Linked DNA regions of Homo sapiens: all the other regions are linked to region 5. The links come from fine-mapping of genetic effects on gene expression. A gene starts in region 5. Each other region holds a variant in brackets. All regions are shown on one strand. Distances are from middle to middle.

Region 1 (5,992 bases), 140 kb before region 5:
GGATGGCAGCTCACTCCTGGGGCAGGGTCCCTGCCTTCCTGGGCCAGGCCTGGCCTGGGGTCTAAGGGATGGCCAGCGGTGGCGGCATGGGACTTTTTCTTCTCTCCCACATCCTGACAACTTGGAGGGACTGGCGAGGGGCGAGTTCTAGCCCCATCCATTGTGTCGGCTCAACCTGTAAGATAGAGCTGGACTTGGGGTGCTTCTTCCCCATGCTCCTGCACCCCTGGGCCGTGCCACCATTGCCTCTGGCTTCCTCTGCCCTCCTCCCAGGAGTCTGGTCTCAAACGGCAGCCAGAGGGAGCTTGTTAAATCCTCCATCACGGCATGCTGTTCCTTTGCTCAAGCCTCCAGGGGCACCATCTCACCTGGGGAAAAGCTAAAGCTGTCACGTCGGCTGCCAGGGCTACTGAGCAGGCCCTGCCACCTCTCTGCTTCCCTCCCACTCTGCTCAGGCACTCGGGCCCCTTGCTGGCTCCTGGCTTCCAGCACTCCCACCTCAGGGCCTTGCACCTGCTGTTCCTTTGGTCTGGAATGCTCTTCCTCCACGGAGCCACTCAGGGGCCTTACCTTTTCAGTGAAGCTTCCCTCCTTATTTAAAATTCCAAGTCCTCCAGAGTGCCCTGATGTACACTTCCTAATCCCTTTCCTGTCCACTTCCCCCACAGCATGTCTCCCGGTCTCACTGTGTGTCATGTTTCCACTTTATTATCTGTCTTCCTGGCTGGAACATCTGCTCTAGGAGGGCAGGGGTTTCTGCCTGTTTTGTCCACTGTTCCATTCCCAATGCCCAGAACTGTGCCTGGCACATAGTAGATGCTCAATAAATGTGTGCTGAGCGACTGAGGGAGTGAATGACAGGGAAAATTGAGGGTCAAGTAGTGTAGGTTGCTGAAGGACAAACAGCAGCTGAGACGAGGCCAAGAGCAGTTGTTCAGAGCCTTCATCCATGCTCTCATCCCCTCACATGACGGAGACACCTGCAGCACCTGCTCTGGGTCGGGCATGGTGGGGAACAAGCCTGGCTTGGCCCCACCTAAGGCTTTCTGGTCTGGCAGGGGGAGATGGAGAAAGAACCAGATAGTTGTGCCTCAATTTCTAACCTGTAAAATGGAAATACTAGGGGTTGTGGTGAGGCTGAAATGAGTAAAAAGGGCAATGCCCAGCCCCTGGCTCAGTCGATGGTGCTGAGACCAACACCTGTGTTACTATTATTGATAGGAAAGGTGTTGACTTCGTGTCTCTCTTGGTCTTTGGGGCAGTGAGCACTCATGGGGCGGGGGCTCTTACGCGGAGCCTGGCTTTGTGGCCTTGATGAACCAAAACATCTCATTCCTTTACCTGCCAACTATGTACTCATGTATCATAAGCCAGCCTCCGTGCTCCTGGGCCTGGCATATCTGCCAGGGTTCAGGCTGGGCCCCCAACTGCCCCCTGGAGGACATGTCAGGCCCCGAGTTCCCACCGAATGACACCCCGCACCTCCCGCTGGCCCTGCTTCCTTGAGGAGCACCCTGTTTGCAGCGAACAGCTGCTGAAATCCCACTTCCCCGACATCAAAAGCCTCAGTGGGTTTTCACCAAACAAACATAATGCAGAACCGGAGAAAGGTGTAAAATAAATAAACGAAACAAGCTGTGCATTTTCTTTCAGTATTACAGCTGCACCCGAAGATAAACAACAAGTGAATGTCACCAAACATCAATACCCGAGAAATTAACTTGACAAAAAGCTCAGCCATCCCCCGACAACCCCCCAGTCCTGCCC[C/T]CCTCCCCACCAACCTCCAACCACCATTTTTGCATTTCTGGAGTTCCCACCTAATGATTTTATTTTTCAATTAATTCCTTGACAGAATGCCAGCCTGTGTCTCTCCCTTCCCTGGCTGGCGCTGTCGGCCCTGCATGGGAGGCGCAGGCAGGCAGGGAGAAAGGCGCAGGCAGGGAGAAAGGGCGGGGGGGCGGGGGGGTGCGTCGGGAGGACAAGAGAAAGCGCTTCTTGGGGTTTTGTTCTGGAAGCAGACGTTGAGGAAAGGCAAGCCGGGGGAGAAGAGCGTGGCTGATAAGGGGAGAAGGGAGTTCTGAAAGGAACCCTGGGATGAGGCAGGCGTGAACAGTCCGGGGAGGGGAAAAGCACTGGGCCAGGAAGCCCAGGGCTGGATTCTGAGTGGAGAGGCCTGAGGTACAGGGTGGAGGGTGCTAGATGCAGGGTGCTGGGTGGGTGAGCTGCCAGGATCAAACCCTGCTGCTCCTGGCTGGGCAACCTTGGGTAAGTTGCTTCACCTCTCTGGGCTCCTCTCAGTTTCTGCAGTTACTGAATGGTGATGAAATCTACACGCCTAGGGTGTGTGAGGGTATTAAAAGAATGAATATATGTATGTAAGGCCCTCACAATAGTGCCTAGCACACGGCAAGCTGTCAATATAGGTTGGTCATTCTTACTGCTGTTGATGGAATCTGTTACTGAGAGCACGAGGGTGGGCTGCTCCCCTCCTCTATAACACGATGATAGCAACAGCAGCTCTCGACTCTGTCTCAAAAAAAAAAAAAAAAAAAAAAGTGACCAATGGGATGGAGCAGGGCCTCCCACTGTGGGCCCACAGAAGAGTGTCTGGATTTGCTGACATGATTTGCCATGAATACAGAAATCAGTGACTAATGTTCAAAAACAGGGAGATGCTACATAAGAATCTGCACCTCTCGTTTCTCTTGAACCTGGAATGGCTAACCTGTGAGTGTGGCAGACCTGTCCCCTCCCTGCCTACAGGTAACTGATGAGGCTGTGCACTAGCTGCCCCTGGAGACACGCAGCCTCACTTATGGGGGCTTTTCTTCCTGTTCCTGGAGGCTCCTGAGTTGCTACTTCCCGAGACACAGGATAGGCAAGGCTTCCACAAACTCCGCTAAGTCGGAGACAGAACTGATTCCAAGAGGCCGGGGTGAAGGGCAGGGGGCGGGGGCACAGGTGGGCGAGGGGAGGAAGGAGGTTGGGGCAGAGTGTGGAGGCCAGAATGAGGCTCCACAATCTTCAGACTCAGTGGTGTGCAGTCCTAGGCTGCTGGGGGACACCAGCCACCTGTAGCTCCCACCCTTGGGGAGTATGAGGGTGCCATGATGTGGGTACCGCAGGGGGGCTGGGCACCCGGGGGCTGGCCTGGCTTGGGAGGCTGCCTGCTCTGGAAGGCTGGCTGAACCAGACCCCCACCCTCAGCTGCTGGTGCCTCTGCATGGGTCTCTCCCTGTCCTCCCTGGCTTCATATCTTGCAGCCCCCACGGGCAGAGCTCTCCTACCCAGATAGGTCTGCATCTCAGGGCTCTGTGTACAGCAGGCACACATCAGGTACGCACAGAATAAAGGGTACTCTTCAGGAGACTGGCCTGGCTCCTAAGACCAAGCCAATGTCCCTTTATTGATACAGGAGGCTGTTTTAGGGCTGTGCCTTTTTTTTTTTTTAAATAGACAGAATCACACTGTCACCCAGGTGAGTGCAGTGGAGCGATCTCGGCTCACTGCAACCTCTGCTTTCCGGGTTTGAGTGATTCTTGTGCCTCAGCCTCCCAAGTAGCTGGGATTACAGGCGTACACCACCAGGCCCAACTAATTTTTGTATTTTTAGTAGAAATGAGATTTCACCATGTTGGACATGAGCTCAAGTGATCCACCCGCCTTGGCCTCCTAACGTGCTGGGATTATAGGCATGAGCCACTACGTCCAGCCAGTTGTGCCTTTTTAAAACACAGCGAGTCCTTCTAAGAACTAGGTATGATCTGAGAGGGTCCTTGTGCAGAGCGGGTGGGCAGGAGCCTGGGCCGCAGACTGGCCTCTGCCACTGTGGGACTCCCAGGAGCTGCTAAGCTCCTTACCTCAGTGTTCCCACCTGTTAAACGGGGACGGTGCCTGCTCTGCTTATCTCATGGGGACCGTAAGGATTCCTGCCTTCAGTCACTCTTAGCAAGCATGACCCAGCATATTCTATGTGCCAGGAATGATGCTGGGGATATGGCAGTGAACAAAACTCCACAGGATAAACTAAACCACCAGCCATGGGGGCCACACTGGGGCTCAGGGTGGACAGGACGAGGTGGGACCTGAGTGCTGCCACTTGGTGGTCCCAGCCTTCTCTGAGTTACCAAAGTTACTCTTCTGCAGACAGGACACAGTAGTAGCACCCACCACAGGGGATTTGATGAGATAAAGCATGAGAGCACTTAGCCCAGGGCCCGGCCCGTTGAGGTGCCAGGCAAACATGAAAGCTAACAATCAAAGGGTCCTGTGAGGCCACCCCAGAGGACAGGCAGTGCCCAGCAAAGGGGAAATCCAGCTGCCCAAGATAAGGCCAAGGGGCGAGCTGCAGGGACCACTCCTCAGGCGCCTGCTGGCTCTAAGCAGCAGGCTGGCTCTGGACTTTCCTACAGAAATTCCACCAGCTAGGCAACATCATTGTCCCACTTTTCAGATGAGGAAGCAGCCGCACTAGGACTCTGAAGAGTCAAGTGGTCACACTTTCCAAGCAGGACCTTGAGCTCAGATAGGGTTGGCTCCAGCCTTACTGGCACAGCATAGCAAAGCCTGCCCCGCAGAGGGGGACACTAGCCCAGCCTCCCTAGGATGGGGGTCTCAACAGGAAAAGCATGAACAGACCCAGGCTATGTAGCAGCAATTTCCTTTTCAAAGGCCATTGGTTCTCAATCCAGCTGTCTGGTAGCATCAGCTAGGAACCCACTGATGCCTGGATCCTACCTCCAGAGGTTCTGATGCAAATGGCCTGGGGTGAGCACGGGATATGATGACTGCTATGATGACTGATGTTATTAATCTTGGTGCTGAGGACCTGGGCTCCCTGAGTGGCTGGAGAGTGGGTCGGTGGGTGGAGTAACTTCCCTCTGTGCTCTGGGTGTCTTGTGTGTGTGCAGAATTCTATGACTGGCCACGCACAACCCCATACACAGGGGCTGGTGAAGGTGCTGCAGCCCTGATACCCATGGAGTTACCCTGAGCTAGGGCTGCGGGGCGGGGGGGGGGGGGGTGGGCTATGCCTGGGGGCTTCTAGACTTGGTCCCACATGTTTGTATTAGTTACAGATACTGGCAGACCTGTGCGGCTGGGAAGCAAGGGGAGTGTCCCGGTGAGGGTGACTCACTGCAGAGGGAAAAGGGAAAAAGAACCAGGAAAGGTGGGAAGGCATCCCCTACTCCTCTGCCTCAGGTCTGGAGGAATCCCCCAAGTCTTAGGGTTTGGTCCACATTAGTTACTGATCTCTTTTCTTTTGGCATAGGCCCTGGGTTGGAAAGCAGAGGCTGAAAGGGAGCAGCTGGTAACATCTCATAGGGCCAAGGTATAGTGGTGTCTGTACCAGGCTGTGTAAGTGCAAAGGCTCGAGGGTCCAGATAGGAATATGATGGCATCAAACAGTCCAGGGGGTCGGGGGAGACTACAGGGAGGGCTATGCATTGTGCGTAAGGGGAAGCCCAGCCTTCGTATAAACGTGCAGCCATTCCTTGGGCCTGGTGCCCTGTGGGAATGTGGAACCAGGCTGGCCAAATCTGATTTTTCAGAAGAGGTCAGAATCTTGATTTTCAGGTCAAATCTTCCAGTAGGAAAATAGTGATGATTCATTCAAAACCATTGTTTTCATAACTGGTAGGCAAAATAAAGATCTAATTTCAGCCGACAACTTGCCAGTGTGGTCTCTGCTCTTTTCTCTCTCTCCTCTCTGTCTACAAAACCCCACTACTTTCATTTGTGGTCATGAAGCAGTAATAAAAACCTTGTCTGTGTGTTTTCCTTGGGTTTCTCCAGGCTGGGCCAGCCTACAGTTCAGAAATAAAACTGGCCACCCCCTACCACCAGCTACAACCCTGGAGGGAAACCCACCCTTCCTCCTGTCCCTGTTTCTAGCACTGTGGTCCCCAAGTCCCCAAACCCTCGTCCAATCCCGGCCCAGCCCCTGCCCCTCCCAAGTCGCTCTGAAATTCTCCTTCTGTCAGTTTAATTC
Region 2 (5,992 bases), 120 kb before region 5:
GGGCCAGTGGGTGGGGTGGGAGGCTCTACAGCCGGTCTGGAGATCAAGTCTGAGCTCTGCCACTTCCTTGCTGAGTAGACATAGCACTGCCTACAGCTGCTACAGTTGCTGTGAGCACTGAGATGATGCCGGTGTGAGGATGGCCCCCTGATGCACAGTAAGTGCTTAATAAACAGTAGTCGTCATAAATTACTGCAGTGCTTGGCAGGCCTCAGTTCTCTCATCTGTGAAATGGGGCTAATAGTGTCCATCTCATAGAGCTGCTAGGGAGTGAATGGGAAGATGTAGGCAAATGAAGAACTGTCTTTGTTACTGTTATCATTCTATCTGCCCCTGTCTGGGCCTTGGCCTGGCTGGTAAGTGGCTGTGGAGACAGTCAATCCCACAGAAATGCTGCCAGCTAAGTCTTTCCACTGTGGCGAGGCAATAGTGCTGTCTTTGGAACTCAATTTATTGAAGGGGGCTTCTCTCTAAGGCAGGGCAGAACCGCTGAGCCTGCACTCCTCGGCTGGCCCCGGGGTTGGGGGATGGGGGTGGCGGGGCAGATGGGCCCCCGTCTCCACTCCAGGGAGAGTCCCTTACACAAACATTTGCCGACGGGCGCATTTGGGCTTGTCAATGGTTGTCGATAAGGACAGGCTCTCTTTCTGCACATCAGGATTTGGGGTCTTATTGAGTTGTGAGCTTGCAACTGTGTATTTAGCCTTCATTTCTCTGGTTCCACATTTGCCTCAGCTCGAATATTCCCCAGTCTGAGACTGGGAGCCTGGCATGTGCCAGGTACTATGCTGGGCACGGGGGACCCAGGGAAGAACTGATCACTAAGAGAGATGAGCACGACACAGCCCCCATGTGGGGAAGGCACGGGTCCAGAGAGGATAACAAATCGTAAAGAAATAAGTTACAACGTGGCAAGAAGGCACGGTGACAGAAGAGGAGAGTAGAGGATGGAGAAATTACTGATACCTGTGGAGGGGGAGGGAAAGCGAAGGCTTCCTGGAGGAGGTGTCATTCTATCTGGGTTTTGAAGGCATTTATCAGGTTAAAAAAAAAAAGTGAGGGGCAAGGCATTCTAAGCAGAGGGAACAGCATGTGCAAAGGCACAGAATCCTGTCTGGAGTCTGGGGAACAATGAACTCTGTGGGAGGTGTGGTGGGAGGAAGGAGGAGTCTGGGAAGACCACAGTGTGGGCAGGAGGCAGTGTTCTGAAGCGTGTGGCAGCTGGGCTAGAATCAAGGGGCTTCCCTGCTATCTCTGGAGTTCCAAGTCCACTTGTGGGGGATGCAGTCCTGCTGCATTGCTGAGACGCTGCTTCTCAGAAGCCCAGTCGTTTCGCCCTAAGCAAGACCAGTGGCCCCACTGGAAGGCTCCTATCTCCATAAGAGAAACTGTTCCCAAGGTGCTGCCTGGTTTGGCAACAGAGCTGCACCGGTCAGGCGAGGGAATAATCACTCCTGGCTCCAGGTTCCATGTCTACGCAGAGAAGTGGGGTTGGGGGATGCTGGCAGCAAACACCCCTAGTCTGTACCCAGGTGACACCCGAGGCCCTGAGCTGCCCCACAGAGAAGGGATGGATGAGGGCACAATGGTGGCTCCATCCAGGAAAGGTCCTGAGACCTGGGACCCAGGCGACAATGAGGTGGGGAGGAATGCGGTGGCGTGCCAGGAAGACCTCAGAGCACCATGGGTGGCACCACAGACAGGACTGTTCCCCATCACGGAGCCTGGCTTTTCTGGGCATGCAAAAGGCAGAGAAGCTCCCCAGCTGGGTGAACCATCGCCAAGTAAGCGGGATCCAAAGTGGGTGGAAAGCCAGCAGCTGCCCTTTTGCTGCCGGGCCCAGGCCACAGTGGAAGCACTTCTGTGATGGGAGGCGGAGGTGTGGAGATGGGGATCAAGGTCAAGTACCCCTTGATATCCCAAGTTTGGAGGGTGTGTACCTGACAGCAAGGGGCACCTGCCATACTTTCCATGTGTCCAGGGTGGAGCGATTCTTGGGGCTGTCTCACCCTCTCCTCACCTGACTGAACACAACCTCTTGGAGAAGACGAGGCCCTGCTGACCTCATCTGCTCCCTCTCTCCTCCCCTCACCTCCAGCCATGCTGTCCTCCCTGTTTCTCACACATACCGAGCTTGCTCCAACCTGGGGGTCTCCCCTGCCCCTGGCCTCCTGCTTAGGCAGCCCTTTGTTGGGTACAGATGTCACCTCTGCAGTGAAGCCTCTCTAGCCCACCTGATGAGGAATGTGTCCCAGCCTCTTCCACCTGAGCCTAGGGCCCTGCTTGGTTACTGTCATGTGGGTGCATGAGGTCACAGCGGGCGCTCAGTATTTTCTGGCCACCACCTGAATAGTCACTGAGGCCACATGACACCACCAAGGTGGGTAAGAGGTGAGTGAGACCTGTGGGCATCAGCCCTCCGGCAGGAAGTGGACCGGGTCATGGAGGAAAGTGATCAGCAAGAGTGTGGTCCCCAGGGCTGGCCACCAGGAAGGCCGTGAGCATCCCTGCCCTGCGGACACCGGAATCTGAACACAGAGCACTGTGAGGACAGAGCCAACGGCCACGAGCTGTGACCTGGCAACCTGGCAGGCAGGGAGGGATAAACACTCTGACCTCTGTCTCTTCCTGCCAAGGCCCCCAGTGACCTAACCCGACTGCAACCCAAAGGGGCACAGAACCCAGATGCTTCCATGTAGGCCAGCCTCCCGGCAGGGAGTGCCCAAGGAAGGTGGACAGCAGGTCTGGAGGGGCTGTGGGAGGATGCCCAGCAGGAGGTGCTTGGCAGCCCTTGTGCCCATAGCCTGCTGGGTCGAGGGCAGTTCTCTCAGATGTCCCACCCACCTCTTGTGTTCCCCAGGGGGCCCATGAGTCAGCCCAAAAGACCGTCCCGCTCCTACCGTGAAAGTGAGCGGCCGTCTTCCGCCGCAGGGCCTGCAGGGTCACCTCGGAGTCGGCCCACTCCAGCACCAGCCTCCGCCCGTACAAGTGGGTGCTGTGACACAGGGCGTTGAAGGCTCTCTGCAGAGGGACAAGAAACGAAACTGCACATCAGCTGGATCAGTGCGGCAGACACTCCACTCTGCCTGCCAGCTGCCTGCCTGC[G/A]TCTCAGATGCCAAAGCCCAGGTTCTGGCCCCGTGACATCTGATCTCCAGCGAGGGTTTGGGGAGCGGTTGGGCACATCTATTTAATTAGTGGGTTGCATTCCCAGGGAGAAAGCTGCAAGTGACTGAGCAGTCAATATATCTGCCGTCTGGGCTGTAATTGGTGCCTGGGCTGAGGCAGCCGTCTATTTGCCGTGTGTCATCCGATCTGTGGAGGGCGACCCCATTAGTGGGCTCGCCTCCCACCCGGCTGTCTGCATGGCGGCCACTTGAGAAAGCCGAGCCCTGGCCGGCTGCTGGATGACAAGCGTGCAGGCCTCTGGGTGTCACTGGGTGTCGCTCTCCTTCACTGCCCTGGTGACTCTGTCCCCCACGCTGCTCTTGAAGGGGCCCCTTCTGTCTCTGCTGCCAGTGCCCTTCGCTTCCTCGCTGGTTCCCCCAGCCCTGCGCTCCCAACTCCCGCTCCCAGCTCCCACCCCCAGCTCAGCAGCCTGGGTCCTGGCACAGGCTGTTCCCGCTTACTCTTTGCTGTTCCCGACTCCCACATGCTGCCTGGTTCCCTCTTTCTGCTTTTTAACAGCTATACTGAGACAGAATTCACATACTATATACACTGCTTGTCTGAAGACAATTCAATGCGTTTTAGTATAATCGCAGAGCTGTGCAAAATGTCATCAAATCAATTTTAGAACATTTTCATCACCCCCAAAGGAAACCCCACACCCCTTAGCTAGCAGTCCCCCAGCCCCTGGCAACCACCAGTCTGCTTTCTGTCTCTATGGATTTGCATATTCTGGACATTTCATAGGAACGGAATCATACGGTAGTGATCAGTACCGTCTTAAACATCGCTAGGTCTCAAGTTCAATGGCACTGCACAGGGACGCCCTAACTTGATGGGCTCATCCCCAAACACTCCCACGGCACAGAGAGGCCGTGAGCTTAGTGGCCAAAAGCTTGGAGTCTGAGGTCACCCTGACCAGGAAGGACAGACCCCGCAGGTCCTAACTTGAAGATCTTGGGCAAGTTAAAGAAATCTTCCTGGACTCTGTTTCCTTATCCATAAAACGGGTATGTTCATATATGCCAATCTCAAGGGTTCTAGGGACAAAAATGAGTTAACAGCGTCTAGAACAGTATGGGCACACCATAATTACTCAATAGATGCTACTTCTCGTTGCTGTTGTTTTGTTACCGTAGACATCACATTTGCAGCTGCTTTCTCTCAGCAGACAGCTTTCGGGCAGGCATTAGTTTAAAGAGCAGTAGGCTCCAGGTGCTTGAGCATTGGCAGTGGAGAGCAACGGTGGCTAAGAAGGCCCTTTGCTTTGCTTCTGGGTTGCAGAGAGCACCAGTGGGTACAAGAAGAGGAGGGGTTTGCTGCTCTTGTTTCTTTTATGCTGTGAAGAATCATATAACTGGAAGGGTCTGGATGGGAACCCATCCAACTGTGCTCCTTATCTACACTGTAGCTCCTATGGTCAGACCCTGTCCCGCAAGAGGGGCCATGTTGAGTCCTAACCCCCTGTGCTTCAGTATGTGACCTTATTTGGAAATAGGTAGCTGCAGATGTAATCAGTCAAGACGAGGTCATACTGGAGAACAGCAGGCCCTGAGCCAATGACTAGTGTCATTGGATGGCCATGTGAAGACAGAGACACATGGCAAATGCCGTGGGGAGATGGAGGCAGAGACTGGGTGATGAGTCTACAAACCAAGGATGCCAACTGTCCCCAGCAGCCAGGGGAGAGGCACCAAACAGGATTTCCCTCGGAAGGAACCAATCCTGCCAGCACCTTGATTTTGGACTTCTGGCCTCCAGAACTGTGAGACACATTTCTGGATTTTTAAAATGTGTTTTGAGGCAAGGTCTCGCTGTCACCCAGGCTAGAGTGCAGTGGTGTGATCATGGCTCACTGCATCCTCGAACCCCTGGGCTCAAGCAATCCTCCCACCTTGGCCTACCGAGTAACTGGGACCACAGGCACATGCTGCAATGCCTCGCTAAGTTTTTAATTTTTTGTAGAGACGGGGTCTCCCTACATTGCCCAGGCTGGTCTTGAACTCCTGAACTCTAGTGATCCTCCTGCCTCAGCTTCCCAAAGTGCTGGGATTACAGGCCTGAGCCACTGTACCCAGCCCATTTCTGTGGTTTGAAGCCATCCGGTCTGTGGCGTTTTGTTATAGTAGCCCTAGGGAAAGGACGCAATGCCCTTGGGTAATCAACTGCCACATCTTGAGCCTCCGTTTCCTCATCCCTATTGGGGCTGGCTGTGAGATTTACACAAAACGAGCACAGAGGGCAGCACATAATACACATTCAATAAACAAATGAATCCGAAGAGACAAAAGGGAGGTGACTAGAACATGCATCTTTTTAAAACTAGACATGCAGCCAAATTAAAGAAACGCTTTGTTCTCTTCTGTGCTGTTCTGTGAAGGACCAGGTGCAGAAAATTTTTTCTTTCCTTTTTTTTTTAACTTTAATTTAAAAAACTCTTTCTGACTGCCAGCAGAGCCTCTGCATTTTTTTCCATGTGGATATAAAAATGCATCTGGACTCTGAGCCGAAATGGCCCATTCAGAGCTTTAAAACACACGCGTTCTCAGCTGGCGAGGCAGAGAAATGGCTTGACTGGGGGAGCTGGGGTTTTAAGATGGGGGAGAGGAATTGGTGGGGAGTCTGGTGTGGCGGATGTTCCATCCTCGTGCCAGGGTCCCTGAGGAGCTGTGGTCCCGGGGACACGGTGGGGTGGGGGTGGCCAAGGGGATGCATCTGGTGAATGCTAGGCTGGAACTCTCAAGAACGGAATAAGATCCCAGGAGGTAGGTCCGGGTGAGAGGCCCCAACCCCAGCCTCTCTGTTTCCCACTGTCAGATTTCAATGT
Region 3 (5,992 bases), 100 kb before region 5:
GAGTCAAGCCCACAAACCCTACTTCATTCTGCCACCTAAAGGCGGATGCATCCCATGACAGACACAGTCTCTCTTCCCTCCACCAAAGCCCCTCTGCCATGCTGGCTTTGAACAGGGAGGGAAGGGCGTGGACAAATTTTCTTGTAAGCTCGTTCAGATGAATGGTTCTTTGGGTCCAAGTCTTCAGAAGCCCACTGGGACTACAGGGATGGCACATCCGGCAGCTAAGGGGCTGGAGCCTGAGAGCGTTCAGAGCTGGTATGAGGCAACTGAGAGGCACATGGAAGACCAGGCTGGGTGCTTTCTCAACACGGCCATAGACAGCCACTGGGTGAGCTGGTTCCTCTGTCCGTGCCTTGGCCTCACCTAACTGCACTAGCCCCGAGATGTCTTTCCTGACCCCTGGAGGCTGGGGTGACTGCCCCCATCCACAGTGTCACCGCTCACTGTGCCCCCTGACCAGGGCTCTGTGGGGTGCATGCCTTCCCTGGCCAGGGCTAGGGCTCAGCTCCGCAAGAGTCCAGGCCCCATCTATCTTGCTCATCACTGGACCTGTGTCAGTGAGCCCAGGAGTCGGGCTCAGGGTAGAAGCCTGAAGGTGTTTTGGAACGAATAAACAAGCAAATGGTAGCCCTGGAAGGTAGACATTACCACGGGTAAATTACACCTACCCTCAGAGGGCGGTGATGAGGGTGAAATGAAATACACATAGCACAAATGTGAACTATTGTTAGCCTTATCATTCCCATGTTACAGATGAAGAAACCAAGGCTCTGGGAGCCAGGGATCCTTCCTCACAGGCAACAGGGTTAGAATGTGAATCCAGGCATGTCTGACGTTAAGCCCAAGCTCTCTTTCTGCTGCACAATGACTCAACCCGCTTGCATCATCTGGACGGGGACTGGCCACTTGCAAGAGCTGGGGCCTCTTTCTTCCCGAGTCTCGGCCAGGTCTGAGGTGAAGCAGGAAGGCCCCATACGGGGTGGCTAGGAATGCCCTGTGTGGACTCCCAGGGGTCCAGTGACTTCCCTAAGACCACCAGGCAAGGTGGGGGTAGACCGAGTCCCAGTTCCTTCTGCCCACACTGTGTGCAAACCCTCTACTTCTGCCCACAAGGGCTATAATCTCCTATCCCTTGATGGTCTCAATGACCTCTGCCCAGATTTCTGGTAAGCCAGACTCTGTGTGTGTGTGTGTGTGTGTGTGTGTGTGTGTGTGTGTGAAGGAGAGAAGGGGTCGGGGGGTGGTGGTGTGAGAGAGAAAGAGAGAAGGAGAGAAAGAGAGAGAGAGAGAAAGAGACTGTTGGGGTTAATTCCTCCCTCTCTGCAGCACACTGCAAGCTGTGGATGCTCTGTGCATGGTAAGCAGCTAAGGGTCCGGAGAAAGGCGAGAAAAATAATTAAAAGGTAGAGAAAAACGCTGTTGAGGAGAGGCTACAGAAGACATGCTTTTGTGGCCTGCAAAAGTGGCATTTGAGAGTTCAGCAGGGAAAGCTGGGACAGAAGGGCACCCTGGATCTACCAGGGATCGTAGGCAGGGATCAGGGAGCTGGGGATCCCATCCCAGGCAGCTGAAGGGCCTTGGGGGAGGTCACAGCTGTGGTTGGGGGTTTCCAGGCAGACATCAGCATGACAAATGAAACGCCACCCACAAAGACTCTAGAAGCTTCAGAAATCCTATTATTCTTCAGAGTCAGAGAAATGGCTACAGTGAGCAGGTTTCTTTCCTCCTTCTAAGAACAGGACATGAGAGAACTGAAGCTTAAGGAGGAGCTGAAAGATCAGGGTTAGATCTTAGAAGGAACTTCCCGATGTCTGTGGACACTTCCTGAAATGCATGGATGAGGCTTCAAGACACCATCATTGCTGCCATCATTTCCGCTACCAATGAGTGCCTGCAATATGCAGTCTTTTAAATACATCATATCCATGCCTCTGTTTTACAGATGGGAAAACCAAGGGACGGAGAAGAAAAGCGACTTGCCCATGTCTCATGGCCCCAGGAACTCAAAATCGAGGCGAGATCTTTCTCATCCGGGCTGCTTCTCCCAGCCCAAGAACAAAGCTGGACAGTGAGTGGCTTGGTTGCTTGTATAACGGTGTGGGATCATATAAGGCCAATACTAATGATCTCAGAGAGCTATCGAAAGAGAATTAAAAAGAAAAAAAAAGGTTGGGGGAGAAGAAATCGATGAAGTACCTTTAGCTCCTTGGAGATAAGCGATATATAAATACCAGCCATTATTAAGGTTCTTATCTGACAGCAAGGTCTACGAAGCTGTTTTTAAGAGCAGCTTTTGAAGGAAGTTGTGCATGAACCTTTGTCTCCTGGGAGCTGAGGCCAGTGTTGGGGCGAAGCTGCGCAGGGCCACCAGGGACTGGGGAGGAAGAAAATCACAGGGCACCCAGGAACTCCTCCCTGAGCCCAACTCTGCCGCTCGGGGGGAAGGAGATGCACACCACACTCCCCACTGTGCAGATAATAGAAACCACAAAGTAGCAATTACTGTATCAGAAGCTGTGAATAAAGAGGACATACCGGGCTTTTAAACACAGCCCTCCTTCCCTCCCCCACCAGGCTCACACTTCGGTAACAAACTCACACCTCACTTTTCCAATTATTTCATTCACCCTGGGTTCACCAATTACTCCCCCACCCTGCAGCCCCACCCCCTCTGCCATGCCAGGAACATGATTGGTGGTGGGTTTGTGGGTTTTCCACAACTAGAGTTTGTTGTCACGTTTCTAATTTCTTTTGAGGTGTGTGGTGGGGGGAGAGAAGGGAGGAGGGGGGAGGAGGTGGGATGGGGCTCCGAGGTGTTGCATGAGGCAAGCCAATTATGCCCAGCACTCATAAACAAGTCGGGGGATGGAAATCGTGTTTGCACACAGGCCTGAAGGCAGACACAATACGTGTGT[CTG/C]TGTGTGTGTGTGTGTGTGTGTGTGGGGCCAGCGTATGGGTGGGTGGGGATTTCCTCTCTCCGTGCAAATTGCGTGCCCCCTGACTGGTCTTGCCCCAGCCCTGGCCAGCAGCTGCTACCGAAAAGGGATGAATCATCTTGGGTCTCTCTCTCCCTCCCTGACTGAAGCGACAGGCTCAGGGGGAAAGAAGTGAGAGGAAGGCTGGAGCAGAGGAAGCGAGAACCCTCCAGAGATGCGGAGCTGGACAGTTTTGCAGCTGTGCTGGTACCTGGAGCCTGGGCAGGCTGGGAGTCCTGCTTAACCCCACAGCCTGCATGCTGGCACCAAGTGGGGGTCAAACCTAGGGCCTTCTGCTCCCAGGACATAAGTCCCCCTCACTATTCGGATCTGCTGGAAGAACCAGAATCCCAGCAGAAGTGCTGAGTCATGTGGGGGAGTTTGCTGGCATAACTTCTCCCCACCTGCACCCAAGGCATTGTTGAGAAAAGAAAGTCTGCTGCCACCTAAGAGACCCAGAATCAGAACAACGGTGTGATCTGAACAAGATGAAGGGGTGGTTTCATGATAAGAATAAACTACAAGCTTCTTCTGCTCCTTCTAGAGGTAAGAAAAAATAGCTCAATCTCTTGGCATTAAAAAGCCTTTCAAATATGCCACCCCTACCAATTTTCTAACACACATGATGCACATACACGCACATCTGTCCATTCACTGGGTACTTCCTCAGCGCTTACGTGCCCTGCAGCATGTTAGCACCTGCTGGACATGAACTCACAAGGCCCATGTGAGCTGAGCAATGTCAATCCCATTTCCTAGATGGAGAAAACTGAGGCTCAAAGAAGGAACATGATTTCTCCAAGGTCTCGGTGAGCCCTTACCTACCACAACAGGCGAAGTGACTTGCCCAAGGTTCCATGGGCAGCATCAGGCTTAGCTAGGCTCAAAGTAGGCGGTGTGCCCCACAGGTCTATGCTTTGCTAAGAGCTCACACGATTGGTCCACCTATCTACAAGCAGCCAAAGATGATGCAGAGTGCAGGGAGGGAGTCACCAGCAGGTCAAGTATTAACCTTGCCCTCACCTTGATTGGGGGCAGCTGCATGGGAAGCCTCTTAGCTGGGAAGCAGCCAGTGAGCTCCCTCCCCTCTTCCTCAGATGCTCAAGAAGACTATGGGATAAAGCCACTTATCTCAACTGATAAAGGTATAGAGCTGAGGATGCCTGATCTTTGCTTACTGCTCCCCTGGCCCCATCCTAAAGAAGGGCCCCACCAGTGAACTTATGGACCCATGGAACCATTCCCACTGAGCAAGAAATATGGTAAGATGGCAGCTGCCTTGCATGGTGTCCTGTCTCACATTCCTCTTCCCTTACAGAGTTCCCATGTGGCCAAGGGCCCCAGTTGTGGCAAGTTGGAGAGATAGACCAACTGCACAGCTAGGAACAAACCTATCCCTTCATCTATAATGGGCAATTTCTGTAGTGGAGGGAGGCTTGGGAACAGAACTATCATCTAAAATTCTCACTTTTCCTGAGATACATACAAACTAAAGCCTTTGGTGAGGGCTTGTCTCAAGCCTGTCTCATCCAACTCTCTAACAGAGGCTAATCCAATCAGTCTGGTGGGTTTCAATGGGTACTAGTGCCCCAAGTTTCACAAATATGTGCTAGTCATCGCCACTCCCACAGTGGGTTTCAATGGCTACTACTGTCCCCAGTTTCATGAATATCTGTCAGTCATCACCATTCCCACAGTGGGTTTCAATGGCCACTACTGCCTGGAGTTCTGTGTGTATGTGCCAGTCATCATCTCTTCCAAATTGCTTAACTCTCTAATGGTTTTTGCATCCTTAGAATAATTTCTGAGCTCCTTACTTGGGAATCAAGGCTGTGCCTGATCAGACATACTTTTCTTGCTCTCCAATCTTATCTCATGCCCTGCACCCCCTCATTTACTATGAAGAATCCACACTGGCTTTCCCCATTCCCTGAACCCACCAAACGTATGCTTACCTCAGGGCCTTTGCACTTGCTTTTTGTATCACCTGGAACCCTGCTTGCCTAGATGTTTTCACAATTGACTCTTTCTTGCCATTCAATTCTCAGCTGAAATGCCACCTCCTCAAAGAGGCCTTCTGTGACCATCCTATCTAACGTTGCCTCCTTTGCACACCCACCCCTGCCTGTCACATCTGAGCACTGTCTGAAATGGCTTGTTTACTTATTTATCTTTCCTCTCATTTTGCTAGAGACTGAAAGTGGACTCCAAGATGTCATGGCTCTTATACTCTGTTGTGTCTACAGAACCTGAGACTGTGTCTAGCACTCAGAAAACACTGTATCCATTCATTTAATCATGAATTCATCATCTATTGACATCTCCCCGAGTGCCAGGTCCCTATACTTCTCATGCATTATCTCATATAACTGTATGTTCTTGTGGAAGCATAGTCACACTTGGGGGCAACATATTCAGTCTTTCTGTCCCATAGGATGATGCTCTTTTATGCAGTGCAACCATATGCTATTACAAGGAGCATTTGGTCCTCAAGAATCAACACTCTTTCCAAAGTATCCATGTTTATTCCTTCCAGGCAATGAATCATCACAGCAAGAAAAAAAAAAAGGGGGCAGGGGGGCCAGCTAGATCATTTACCAAGGGAATACTGTCTGGATAATGATGTTCAAATCATGTGCTGCTTGGTGGGAACGAGAAGACACTGGCTCCTTCACAGGCAACCCTGGCCAAGATGCAGACACAAATAAGGAGTTTCAGCATGGTTTGCCCTGCACTGAGATGTTTTCTCTCCCGCAGAAGGTTATGTTGATGAGTGTGTACAAAGTGCAGGGTCAAGCCTGCTCTGACAAGAGGCAATGGCTTTGGAAGCCATTTAATGGAGGCATATTTAGGAGTGGAGTTTCTTCCTCTTCTGTTCTTGCTCTCCCTTCTTAGAGTGCCTTTTAGACTGAACTTCTCCAGCTACTGCTCATCATGGTGAGAGCCAGGTGTAGAAAGGTTACCTTATCACCATCAACGCAATATTCCCTTTCATTTTTGCCTCCTGGAGGCTG
Region 4 (5,992 bases), 140 kb before region 5:
CTACCAGCCTTCCAGGCGCCCGCTAGTGCCCACTGCTGGCCAAACTGAACACAAGCCTCTTGATAAGGGAGTTTCAGAGACACAGCTCAAGGGGCCAGGCCCCTGAGACCCACAGCGGGTGGGAGACGGACGTGAGGACAGCAGATGCGGTTCCAGCCAGCCCTCCACTCTGGAAACAGCCTGTCCCCGTTCCTCCCAGCTAACTGAGCCACACTCTGAACACCGGGTCACAGGCCTCATCCAGATGTGTGCCTCTGGCTTTTCTGAGGCACGTGTCCTACTGACCTCCCACCTCCCTGTGTCCCTTTGGCCCCTCTGGCCTCTTGGTGTCACCTCTCCTTTCCTACGCAAGTGCTCTGGTCCAGCCTGTTATGGTTCTCTTTCCCGGCTCTCTGGTGACCATATCGGCAGGGAAGGGTCACAGCCCCCTGAGATGTGGCTGAGGCAGTTTCCTGCCCCCTGCAGCAGTCAGTCCTGAGCCGGGTCAGGAGGCTCACCGCCCTGGAGGAGTGCTCCCTCCTCAGTGCCACCTCTGTGGGTTATTTCTGGAGTTTCTCTCCCAGATCTTCTGGGTGTCTGTGTCTACCAACGTCCCATCATTGCTTCAAAAACAACCGAAGCCGCCTTTCAGAAAGCTCCCGTGTCCCCCTCCCAGTGACAGCGGTGACTCAGTCCCTTGCTGCCTTGGCTCAAAGGCTTAGAGTCTCCCAGTTCAACCCCCACATGCTGGATGGAGGAATTTCTCGTAAGACGCTTTCACCAGTCCCTCTTCTCCAAAGGAAGAAGAGATGAAGCCCCTCCTCTGGGCCAGGCAAATGACTTTTCCCGAGCTCCGCTTTATGGCTACCTGGCTGTACTTTACTGCATTCTAGAACAATGATGATGATTGTAACAAAAATCTTAATTGCTTTCCTAGTTCCCGTTTAAAACAGTTATTTTTGACAGGGTAAAAGGCTCTGGGTCACTGAGATCTTGCTCACACTCCAGGTTGTCCCCTGTACTGAGTGCTGTGACTGAGAGGGACAGGGGATGGGGGATAGGGGGTTGGGGCTGGGTGTAAAGAGGAGCTGGGTGTGGTTACTGCAGACGAACTGATCAGGAGTCTGTCTCCCTCAGTGAGGAAGCAGAAGTTAAACCGGGGCATCCAAACTTTTGGCTTCCCTGGGTCACCCTGGAAGAACTGTCTTGGACCACACATAAAATACAATAACACTAGTGATAACTGATGAACTAAAAAAAAAAAAAAAAATTGCAAATTTAAGGAAGTTTACAAATTTGTGTTGGGCTGCATTCAAAGCCCAAGCTTGGGTTGGACAAGCGTGATTTAAGATCTCAAAGGAAAATAAAAAGGCGCCACGCAGGAAGAATGTGAGGGAAGGGCATCCCAGGCAGAGGGAAGAGGCAGCTCGAGGGCCCTGGGGTGGGAGCCTGCAGGGAGGAAGGCCGGGACAGCGAGTGCAGGGTCAGGTGAGGTGGGGCCTCGGTGCTGGGGTGAGCAGCGGGACTCGACTTTCCATGCGTCAGGGAGGCCCTAGAGGGTTTGAAGCTGCAGACTGACATGATCCAGCTCACGGATCAGTCAGGCCACACTGGCTGCACGAGGACAGCTGAGCCGGAAGAGAGGAGATGAGGGTGCAGTCTGGTGGGCGCGGCATGAAGGGGCACCCTGAGATCTCTGTGGGAGTGGACTCCACTACTCCTGTGTGCTCACAGATCTGCCCCTTCCAAACAGTGCGTGCCTGGGGCAGGGGTGCAGGGGCCAGGCTCAGTATATGGCCTCTAGGCTGCCTCACTCCCCACTGCCAATTCCAGGCCAGGCCTGGCGAGTGGCTGGAAGCTCTCCCTCCTCTTGCTACCTTTCACTCTCCTGCAGTTCCTGAACCTTCCCCAGCTCACCAGCTTTCTTTTGGCCACAGGGAAGGCAGTGACGCAGGAAGGGTTGGACAGCCCTGATTCCCATCATTTCACTGTGTGAGCCCTGGCAGGGGCCTGCAGCTGCCTGGGCCTGATAACGCTTTTGTGACGGAGATGCTACTTGCATCACTCCATTTTAAAGATGAGGAGACTGAGGACTCAGCAGGTTAAGTCACTTGCCGAGGCTCACGAGGCTGGAGAGTGGTGGACTGTTACGGAGCCCAGGCAGATCCGAATACAGAGCCCATGTCTGCTCACCCCGCACCAAGCCCTGGATGATGCTGAATCCTGCTCTGGGGGGAGGTTCTAGAAGCATCCTCTGGGCCAGTTAAGTCAGTGCCAAAAGATGCCTGCCTCTGCACCAGGCCCGTGGGTCTACACCTGAGTTTTGGTGATCAGCCAGCCATCCCTGCTGGCTCTGGTGGTGTGGAAATGTGAGTACAAATTGTATAGACCAGAAGGTTCAGCCAGAAGGAGCCATGTGCCGCCGAACAGGACACGATCCAGCTCACAGATCTGAGCAGTGGGAAGGCATGGGGTAGGTCTCCAGCCCTGTCATTCCGCATGACCTACGGCAACTTGGGACCCTGGTCACCTGAGGGTCGGCCTGGGTGTGGTTTAACAGAGACACTGTTCAGCCCCCACATCCAGAAGGCTGTGGTTGATGTGACTCTGTGAGCCACCCCACTATAAAAGCTGGAGAATGTGGCTGGGCGTGATGGCTCACACCTGTAATTCCAGAGCTTTGGGAGGCTAAGGTGGGAGGACCACTTGAGGCTGCAGTGAGCTATGATCATGCCACTGCACCCTGTCTCTAAAAAAATTAAAAATAAACGGCTGGGGAACGAGCCATTCTGTGTCTTTTGTTTCCACGAATTCTCAGGGATGAGCTTGGATGGCTAAGGGGGTGCCTGCCCTAGAGGACACGAGGCGCATGCTTGGTCGTGCAGGCTGCCAGCTCTGTGTTGCCTTGCCTGGGCTCTGGGCCACTCCGAAAACTGGATGAAGACTGGAACCTCATCCCCACCAAAATGCACAGACCATGTTTTATGCACAGAGTCTGAAGATTCCCAAACTCTCACTTGGAGGCCCACCCAGTGACTCTAAATGAAGAAGAAAACAAAAGTGCTGATGAGAATCTTCTCTGGGCTTTACTTGGCTTGACTCACTTAATTCTGGCACTGTCTATCTGAGGTAGGCACAATTATCACCCCCATTTCCTAGAGAGAAAAACAGAGGCTCAGCCAGGATGTCATTAGTCTGAGGTCGCACCTCGGGGAATGGCGATGTCTAGATTCAGACTGCAGTGAGATGCAGTGCAGTTCTTGCTCTGCCCTCTCCGTCTTGCCCTCTGCCTGGTGCTGGCACAGGCCCTTCCAGGCGGGAGGCTGCGTCTCAGGCTGGAGAAAATGTGAACACGGGCGCCTGAGAGAAGCCTGGGGATGCTGCTGGCCAGCGGAGAGGACCTTGATGCATTTCACAGGGCTCTGGGCCCGTGAGCAGAACG[C/T]GTCCACCATGAGTGACATCATTCAGCTCAGCCAGGGAGCTTGGCATCTGGGCTTGGAGCTCGATGCTTCATGAGCCGCTGGGAGGCTTCCCTGGGTGACTGAACCAGGGCTCGTGGTCCCAAGTGACGAGGATGGGGCAGGACAGAGACCAAGTCCCAAGCCGTGAACAGTCCCTTGGAAAGACATAGGTGGGAATTCTAGCTCAGCAGCCCTGGAGGGAGAGCAGGAACAGGGCTCAGCACCATGCCCGGCACTCTTCATGCATTACTGCGTTTATTTCTCTCTAAAACCTTATGAAGTAAGAACTAGCTAGCAAGGGGAAGGCTGGGCCCAAGGAGATAAGGAAACTGGGCCAGGGTCTCCCAGCTTGAGCTTGGAGACGGGGTTTCATGTCCAAGCAGCCTGATGCCAGAGAGCTGGCCCTCGTCCCCTTACTCTCCTGGGGTGGGGACAGGGGGAGCAGGGGTTCTAGCTCCCTGTGTAGCTGTTCCCAAGTCTCTCTTCCTAACGTGGCTGCTCCCTTGGACTCTTCCGTGTCTGCTACAGAGCAGGTGCGCAGTCAGTGTCTGCTAGAACGCGTCACTGGTGAAACCCAGGATGCCTGGGCCGCTGGGCAGTGGCCTGAGGCCTTCCTCATCCCCTGTCTCCTCCGACCTTGGACCAGTGCAGGGTGGGGCCGCCTGCCGCTCCCCGCCCCGCCCCCCAGCCCACATGGTGGTGAGTGCAGAAGCTGGAGCGGCTGTCCCGGTCCCCAGGGCCCCGGAGCCACACACCCTCTCGGTGCCAGCTCACAGCTGAAGGGTCTGCTCCTCGCTGTCGCTGTCACTGCCTTCCAGCTGCTCCAGGATCTCGTCCAACACCACAGACCGCTTTTTCTTCGGGGGCTCTGTGGGAGCCCAGATGGCAAGAGAGGAGAAAAGAACAGCCGAGAGGGTTGGGAGGCAGGAAGAGAGAAATGACAGAGGAAGGAGGGAGAGGGGAGAGATGAGCAGAACAAGGGTGCGGGGAGACAGAACAGAAGCGAGAGAATGCAAGAGAGGGAAGTTGGGGAGAGCGGAGGGAGAGAAGATACAGAGGGAGGTGGAGAGAGGATGGGGCAATGAAGAAAGATAAGGAGTAGGGGAGAGAATCAAAGGGGAAATGAGGAGGAGAGAGAAACACTAGAGTTAGTCTCAGCATCACCATGGCGGGGCTGCCTCCCTCGCACCCCCAGAAACTCTCCTGCTTCCCTGGCCATCCCCTCCCCATCTTCTACCCGCAGGGGAAAGGATTCCCTTGAGAAAAAAGAGAGAAAGGGTCTCCTGTGCTGCTTCCTCACAGCAGGTCAGAGCTTGGCTTGGAGGAAGCTGAAACCCTTCAGAGAGGCTGGACCAAGCAGTGGACAACGGCTGGGGAGACAAGTAGAAGTTGTTTCTGTTTTCTTGGAGGCCAGGCTAATGGTGCAGTACATGGCTGGCATACAACAGGTGCTCGATAAGTGGTGGGTGAATAGAACAGATGCAAAGCTCAAGGATTCCAGAGGAGGCGTGGAGGGAATGACAATTAGAGGTGGCTTTGAAGAGGAGGACTATTTGACTTGGGCTTTGAAGAATGCAGAGGAGTTTTCTGTGAGGAGAGGGGATTCAGGGTCATGAAGAAAAGCACGGAGGTAGGAAAGGGCATGGTGGGCTTAGCCCCACAAGCACCTCCTGATTAGGTACCATCATGAACCATGGCTCCACTCCTGTCAGCAACCCCACAGGCAGGTGGTATGCTGCCTCTTGTAGGAGACGGAACTGAGGCACGGACAGGCAGGTCTGAAGTCACTCAGCTAAGAAGCGGTGGAGCCAGGATTCGAACCCCAGTCACACCTAAGCCCACAGTCTTTCTGCTTTTTATGAAAGTCTCGGGTTCTAGGCAGAGAACTCCAAGGGGATCAATGGTGGCAGGAGAGGACGTGTGGGGCCCCTTGGCCCTCCAGGAAAAGAGCGAGGTTGGAATCCAGGCTGGCTTCCTCTGTCAGTCCCTCTGCTAGTCTAACCACTTGTCGATGAGCAGCCTTGCTCACAGATAAGGCTTGATTTGTACAGAGGCAGTGTAAAGAGGCTGTCCAAATCCCCTCCCTTTCCATGGCTCAAACACCTCCCCAAATAAACCACCCTGAGGCCCTTTACCTCCATTTATCCGCAGGCTGTGAGCTCCCTGGAGCTCACAGCAGCGGCCTAGCCTTTTCTACTGAGACCTCCCCAGGGCTAGCACAGTGCCTGGCCCAGAGATGAAGACTTGGTTTCCCTCTGCGTGTTCCTGGGTGAGCGATTTCACCTCTCTGAGCCTGTTTCTTCAATCTCGTCCCTCCCAAATCAATTCAAACATTGAACCCGTTTCTCATCATCTCCACGGCTGCACCCCAATCCAAGTACCTCTCAGCCCCTCACTAGAGACCCCCCTCCCACCAAGGGATCCCTCTAAAACATGTGCGTCAGATCCACCACTCCCTAAGAAAGCCCCAAGTTCCTCTGGAGGCATCACTGGAGCTGGCCCACCTCCCCCTGCTCAAGACCTTTGCACCGGCAGCACCCAGATCTCCCTCT
Region 5 (5,992 bases):
GAGTTGAGGGGACATTCAGGGCCCCACGAACAGCCAAAATAAGTTTGAAAATGCAAGAAGCTAGAGGCCTTGGCAGTCCAGCCAGAAGATGACATTTTCTGAGGTAGCTTCTTACTAACTGATCTAATCAAAATCTCAATCACACTGTGAGTTAGGAATTTTTGTCCACATTTTATAGAGAAAATGAAACTCATAAGGGATAAATGATCTGCCCAAGGCCTACAGAATCAAGGTTTGTGACTCAATTCAGAAATATAAGACAGTGAATTCAATTCCTCAGTGCCTGGGAGAGACCTGGCTCAAGTCTGAATCCATCATTCCTTTGCCAAAAACCTTTCGGTGACTTTCTGGCACCAAAGTCTCAAGGACGAGCACCTAAAGGAAAACATGCAATTCTTCAAGATCTGCCCTGACCAACCTCTTCAGCACCACGCTTTGACAAATTTCTCACAGCCTTCTCACTTCCGAGGTTTTACTTTGGTTGTCCCCTCTGGGTGATATTTCCCAAGACAGGCCCTGGCTAACTCCTCATTCTCAGTTCAATCATCTCCTATTCCAGGAGGCCTTTCTTAGATGCCTTAGATGGACGAGATAACCAACCCTCACTGTGCTCCCACAGCACTCGGTTCACATGTCAGTGATGCACCTTGCATCGTAATGATCTGGTGCCTCTCTTTTCTGCTAGCCTGCAAGTCCCATTAAAAATAAGGACACAGGCTTATCCACCTCTATCTACAGTGTCAGCAATATCACAAGTACTCACTACTAATTATTTCCTCAATTCAATCCCTAAACTAAAGATTGCTCAATTCAATCCCTGCTCTATAAATTACACCAGTGTGTGACCTCAGGCAAATCCCTGTACCTCGCTGTATCTTGGTTTCTTTACCTTTAAAATGGGCGTAAAAATAAAACTTACCTCACAGGGATATGGTGAGGATTAAATGTTACTTTACCTAAAGCACCTGGAACAGTGCCTGGCACACAGTAAACTCTCCAAGTGTCAGCTGCAACTGCCCTTGTTTTTATTATTCTTTCATTCATGAGATAAGACAAACAATGATAAGAGAGTCAACTACACTGTGAAGTGCAACAAAGCTGAATTTGGGAAGAAAAGGAAGTGCAGCCACGCTAAAAATCCTCATCGCACAAAGCAAGGCATCAAGAGACATGTCTAACCTGATGGATGGATGAGTAATAGATATTTTTAAGTATACTACTCAGAGATTATAACAGGATAATTAAAAACAAGAATATTACAGACACTGGAGAGGAGGAACAGATGATCTAAATTCCTTATTTTTCACAGTTGAGGCCTAGCAGATAGTCACTGGGGCAGGCAGGTCAAAAGGAGGAAAGTACACTCCTCAAATATACAGAGATACATGTGAGGAGTCCCAAAAACAAATCAATGAAGATGGTTACTCCTGGACAGAGAGGGAAGGTAGGACAGAGCAAAGACTTTGCTACTCATGTTATACACTACTATACTGTTTGAATTTTGAAAACTGTGTGTTACAAAGTTCCTTTGTCCCACCTGACAAATGAAAAAAAAAAAAGGAAAGGAAAAAACTCACAACATTAGAACAGAAATGGGGGCCAGGTGCAGTGGCTCACGCCTGTAATCCCAGCACTTTGGGAGGCCGAGGCGGTGGATCACCTGAGGTCAGGAGTTCGAGACCAACTTGTCCAACATGGCGAAACCCCATGTCTCTACTAAAAATAAAAAAATTAGTCGGGCTTGGTGGCGCGTGTCTGTAGTCCCAGCTACTTGGGAGGCTGAGGCAGGAGCATCGCTAGAACCCGGGAGGCAAAAGTTGCAGTGAGCCGAGACTGCCGAGATTGCTCCACCGCAGTCCAGCCTGGGAGACAGAGCCAGACTCCGTTTAAAAAAAAAAAACAAAAAAAGAAAAAAACAAAAAACAAAACCAAAAAAAGCCATGAAAGAGAGAGAAAAAAAAGAGATAAGACAAACAATGATAAGAGAATCAACTACACTTGAAACACAACAAAGCTGAATTTGGGAGGGAAAGGAAGTGCAGCTACGCTAAAAATCCTCATCCCACAAAGCGAGGCATCAAGAGACACTGTCTAACCTGATGGAAGGAGCAGTAATCCATTTAAAAACAAAAAAACAAAACAGAACAAAAAACAGCGAGAGAGAGAAAAAAGGATGATCCATTCGAGCCCACCGCATCTAATCATCTAATATTACGTACATTCACCTATTTTGCCTACCACGTGTCGGGTTCTGCGCTGGGCTCCAGGGAAACAAAAAAGTATGGCTGGGTCACCACTCCCCACTTACTGGATAAATGCTGTAAAGCCCTTTACCCACTCCGTATTCCTACTTGCCCTAAGGATGGGAGTGGGAATTGGAACGCAGGTCCGCAGATTAATATTCCCCATGTCTTCCCCAACAGTTTCCAGACTGGGAGAGGAATATAAATACAGTGTCGGACCATGTCCCGGGTCAACAACTAAAAAACAGTGATCGAATGAAAGAGGTTGTGGGAGCAGGGTATTCGCCACAAGGTGGGAGTTGTCATCTCCCCGAGAAGAGGTGTGTTAGGAGTCAGGTACCAAACAACCGGCCGTGAAACCGTAAGCAGTCACTATTCCTCTTTCCTCGGGATCAAATGGGGATAAGCCCAGGATCCCGCCCCCTTTGAGTTCAGAATTGGCCCGGAGTCCTGCCCCAGAGCAAAAATTCTTCGATCACCTCCAGGCATCTCTTCCCTACCTCACAGCTCCCGGCTGGTCTCATTTCAGATTCCCAAGTCCTGCCTCTGCACTCACCCCATTCGGGAGATTCTTCACGATCAGTCGCGACATGGCGCAGGGTCCCCGCTGTTTTGATTCCAACACGACTGGTCAGCGTCTTCCACCAAGTTTCACGCTACCGCCCTGGGCGCCGCCATCTTTACCGAGCCGGAACACAGTCACGTGGCTGAGACCTTGGCCTGACCTGTCCGGAAGTAGGCGTGGCTAATCCAAAACTACTCAGGGAGGTCACACCCCACAAGGGGTGGGCCTGGGCGCTTGCATTTTGCGCAGGCGCAGGGCCTTGGGCGGATTCTGTGAGACGCCAATGCAGCGGAGAAGGCGGCAGGGGGCGCCGGTCCCTAACATGCGCCGGTTTAGCTCGGTGTTAAGGGTCGCGCCAACCGGGCAATCGCGTTCTCTCCTTTTTCTTATTTTATTTTTATTATTGAGCCTTAGGACTCCCCTGAGAACGGGGGCAAGATTAGGGACCCTTGCCTTCCTCGTAGAAATGGGGAAAGTGAAGTTTAGAGAGATTGCCAGCCAACACAAATCAAGTATTGAGCCTTTTGTGTAAATACTTGGAATGAACATGTTGGAAATAAACGCTCTCATTTTGCAGGCAGATAAACTGGGAATCGTGCGTGTAAAGCAGCTTGCTCAAAGTCTTATAACTATGAATTGGAAAGTCAGATTCGAGCTAGGGACTGCCTAGGGCCCTACAATGAGTCTCTACGCCTTCAACCCCAGCCCCACAAGCATTTTGCCTCCCTTCCTAATGTTTGGAACTCTCAGCTGGCCAATCTTCTAGCTGAGAGATCTTGGCCAAAATGGCCTCTGAGCCTTTGTGTCTACTTCTATAAAATGGGAATAATTCTTTATTATGCTAGGGGTTAAGGAGGTGAGAACGTGAAAGGGATGTTATTTTCCTATTGCTTCTCTGAGCATTCTCGGTACCTACTCTTGGATGGAGACATCCTATGAAAACCCCTATTTTCACTCTTAAATGACGGTATTTCCTTTCTGTTTCCCCACAGTGCCTCAGCTGCACTGGACGTTGCTGCCAAGCTTCTGCAATTTCCTTCACCTAAAAGACATTCCGTCCCCCCTTCTTATTGTTAACAGCTTTATCACAAACCATGCAATTCACCCACTTAAAGTGCACAATTCAATGGTGCTGACTATATTTACAGAGGTGTGCAGCCATCACCACAATCAATGCTAGGACATTTTCATTACCCCCAAAGAAACACCACACCCTTTAGCTATAACCTTCCAATTCCTCCCTCTCCCTTCCCTCTGATAACCACTAATCTACTTTCCGTCTCTATGGATTTGTCTGTTATGGACATTTCATGTAAATGGAATAATACAATATGTAGTCTTTTGTAATTGACTTCTTTCACTTAGCATAATGTTTTCAAAGTTCTTCCATGTTGCAGCATGAATCAGCACTTTATTTATCTGTTTATTTATTTGAGACAGGGTCGGGCTCTGTCACCCCGACTGGAGTGCAGTGGCACAATCTCAGCTCACTGCAACCTCCGCCTCCCAGGCTCAAGCCATCCTCCCACCTCAGCCTCCTGAGCAGCTGGGACTACAGGCACATGCCACCATGCCTGGCTAATTTTTTTTTTTTGGTAATTTTTTGGTAGAGGCGAGGTTTCAACATGTTGCCCAGGCTGGTCTTGAACTCCTGGGCTCAAGCAATCCACCTGCCTTGAACTTTCAAAGTGCTGGGATTACAGACGTGAGCCACCACACTTTTTTTGCTGAATAGTATTACATATATGGATGTATTACATTTTATTTATTCATCAGTTGATGATGGACATTTGGGTTGTTTCCGCTTTGTGGCTACTGTGAATAATCTTGCCGTGAACATTTACCTGTAAGTTCCTGTGTGGGCATATGTTCTTATTTCTCTTGGATATATTCCTAGGAGTAGGATTGCCTGATCATATGGTAACTCTATGCTTAACCTTTTTAGAACCTGCTAACCTGTTATCCAAAGTGGCTTCCCCATTTTATATTCCTACCAGCGGTATATGAAGGTTCAAATATCTCCACATCTCCTCCAGTGTTTGTTATTGGGTCTTTATAATCATAGCCACTCTAGTGGGTGTACAGTGGTGACTCAATGTTTTGATTTGCATTTCCCCGATAACTAATGAAACAGCATCTTTCATGTGCTTTTGGCCACTGGAATATCTTTCTGAACCCATTCCCATCCCCTCTCTAAGACCAGCTCAAACATGGCATCCTCGAATATGCCTCTTTCCTACTGAGCCCCAAATGCAGGGAGCTCATGCATCTGCCACAGCATAAACCTACAGAACTCGCTGGTGAGGAGCGCACAGTGTAGGTTCAGAGTTATAGATGAGGCCACTTGTTCTTTCTACATTATGTTGCCATAGGGGCATCCTTAGATCCATCTTTGCAAAGCATCACACTGGGCACCAGGAGGAGACAGGTAATAGGAGTTCATTAAATGCTAATTGTAAATTAAGGTCTGTCCATTCAACAGAATTCTATGCAGTTGTTAAAAAACGGTAGGTATGTAGCTATAAATGTTTTTGAAGGAAATGCATCAGTCAGCAGGACACAGAGGTATACTCAAAAGGATTTAACAAAAGCAAATCTGGACAAAAAGCTATTTACAGAAGGGTGGGCAGTGTAGTGGGATGAATGATCCCCTGTCCCCTCACCACCACACACACTGGGGGCATCCTGACCCCTGGAAGCTGTAAATGTGACTTTATTTGCAAAAAAGTGTTGTATTAGTTTGTTCTCACGCTGCTAATGAAGACATACCTGAGACTGGGTAATTTATAAAGGAAAGAGATTTAATGGACTCACAGTTCCACATGGCTGGGGAGGCCTCACAATCATGGTGGAAGAGCAAGGGATGTCTTACCTGGTGGCAGGCAAAGAGAGAATGAGAACCAAGTGAAAGGCTTTCCCCTTATAAAACCATCAGATCTCGTGAGACTTATTCACTACCACGAAAACAGTATGGGGAAACCACCCCCATAATTCAATTATCTCCCACTGGGTCCCTCCCAGGACACGTGGGGATTATGGGAGCTACAATTCAAGATGAGATTTGGTGGGGACACAGCCAAACCATATCAAGGGTCTTTGCAAATGTACTTAAGGGTCTCAAAATGAGATCATCCTGAATTATCCTGGTAGACCCTAAATCCAATGACACATGTCCTTTTAAAGG

Which allele goes with the higher level. Positions count from the first base shown, and alleles are read on the strand shown. Sizes are in standard deviations (SD) of each study's normalised expression. Not every link is listed here.
As copies of A replace G in region 2, the expression in follicular helper T cells of the gene that starts at base 2,933 in region 5 goes down (large effect, 0.83 SD a copy in Schmiedel 2018).
As copies of C replace CTG in region 3, the expression in Th1 cells of the gene that starts at base 2,933 in region 5 goes down (moderate effect, 0.65 SD a copy in Schmiedel 2018).

The links. PIP is the estimated chance that this variant, and not a neighbour inherited with it, causes the effect. A credible set is the group of variants that fine-mapping cannot tell apart.
Region 1: its variant is the best candidate, but not a certain one, in a credible set for the expression of RBM19 in whole blood (INTERVAL, PIP 0.77).
Region 2: its variant is the best candidate, but not a certain one, in a credible set for the expression of RBM19 in follicular helper T cells (Schmiedel 2018, PIP 0.80).
Region 3: its variant is the best candidate, but not a certain one, in a credible set for the expression of RBM19 in Th1 cells (Schmiedel 2018, PIP 0.63).
Region 4: its variant is the best candidate, but not a certain one, in a credible set for the expression of RBM19 in thyroid (GTEx, PIP 0.71).

What each region holds. Positions count from the first base shown.
Region 1 is chr12:113,825,567-113,831,558 of GRCh38, forward strand. All of the region lies in intron 23 of RBM19 (RNA binding motif protein 19), which reads right to left. Among named protein-coding and RNA genes, the nearest start is that of LINC01234, 55 kb to the left of the region's middle. The variant C/T (reference allele first, on the strand shown) is at 1,768.
Region 2 is chr12:113,841,768-113,847,759 of GRCh38, forward strand. It overlaps RBM19 (RNA binding motif protein 19), which reads right to left. Exons shown (of 24, transcript NM_016196.4): 23 at 2,901-3,021. Among named protein-coding and RNA genes, the nearest start is that of LINC01234, 71 kb to the left of the region's middle. The variant G/A (reference allele first, on the strand shown) is at 3,106.
Region 3 is chr12:113,860,293-113,866,284 of GRCh38, forward strand. The region is part of intron 21 of RBM19 (RNA binding motif protein 19); the gene reads right to left. LOC124903025 (a long non-coding RNA gene) reads left to right here and starts at 1,679. Exons shown (of 2, transcript XR_007063468.1): 1 at 1,679-3,524; 2 at 4,076-5,992. RefSeq lists enhancers at 2,695-3,894, 3,145-3,743 and a silencer at 2,904-3,013. The variant CTG/C (reference allele first, on the strand shown) is at 2,919.
Region 4 is chr12:113,819,014-113,825,005 of GRCh38, forward strand. RBM19 (RNA binding motif protein 19) reads right to left here. Exons shown (of 24, transcript NM_016196.4): 24 at 3,044-4,308. The coding sequence ends at 4,211. Among named protein-coding and RNA genes, the nearest start is that of LINC01234, 48 kb to the left of the region's middle. RefSeq lists an enhancer at 1-788. The variant C/T (reference allele first, on the strand shown) is at 3,422.
Region 5 is chr12:113,963,393-113,969,384 of GRCh38, forward strand. It overlaps RBM19 (RNA binding motif protein 19), which reads right to left and starts at 2,933. Exons shown (of 24, transcript NM_016196.4): 1 at 2,800-2,933. The coding sequence starts at 2,835. RefSeq lists enhancers at 1,355-2,283, 2,284-3,211, 3,170-3,239.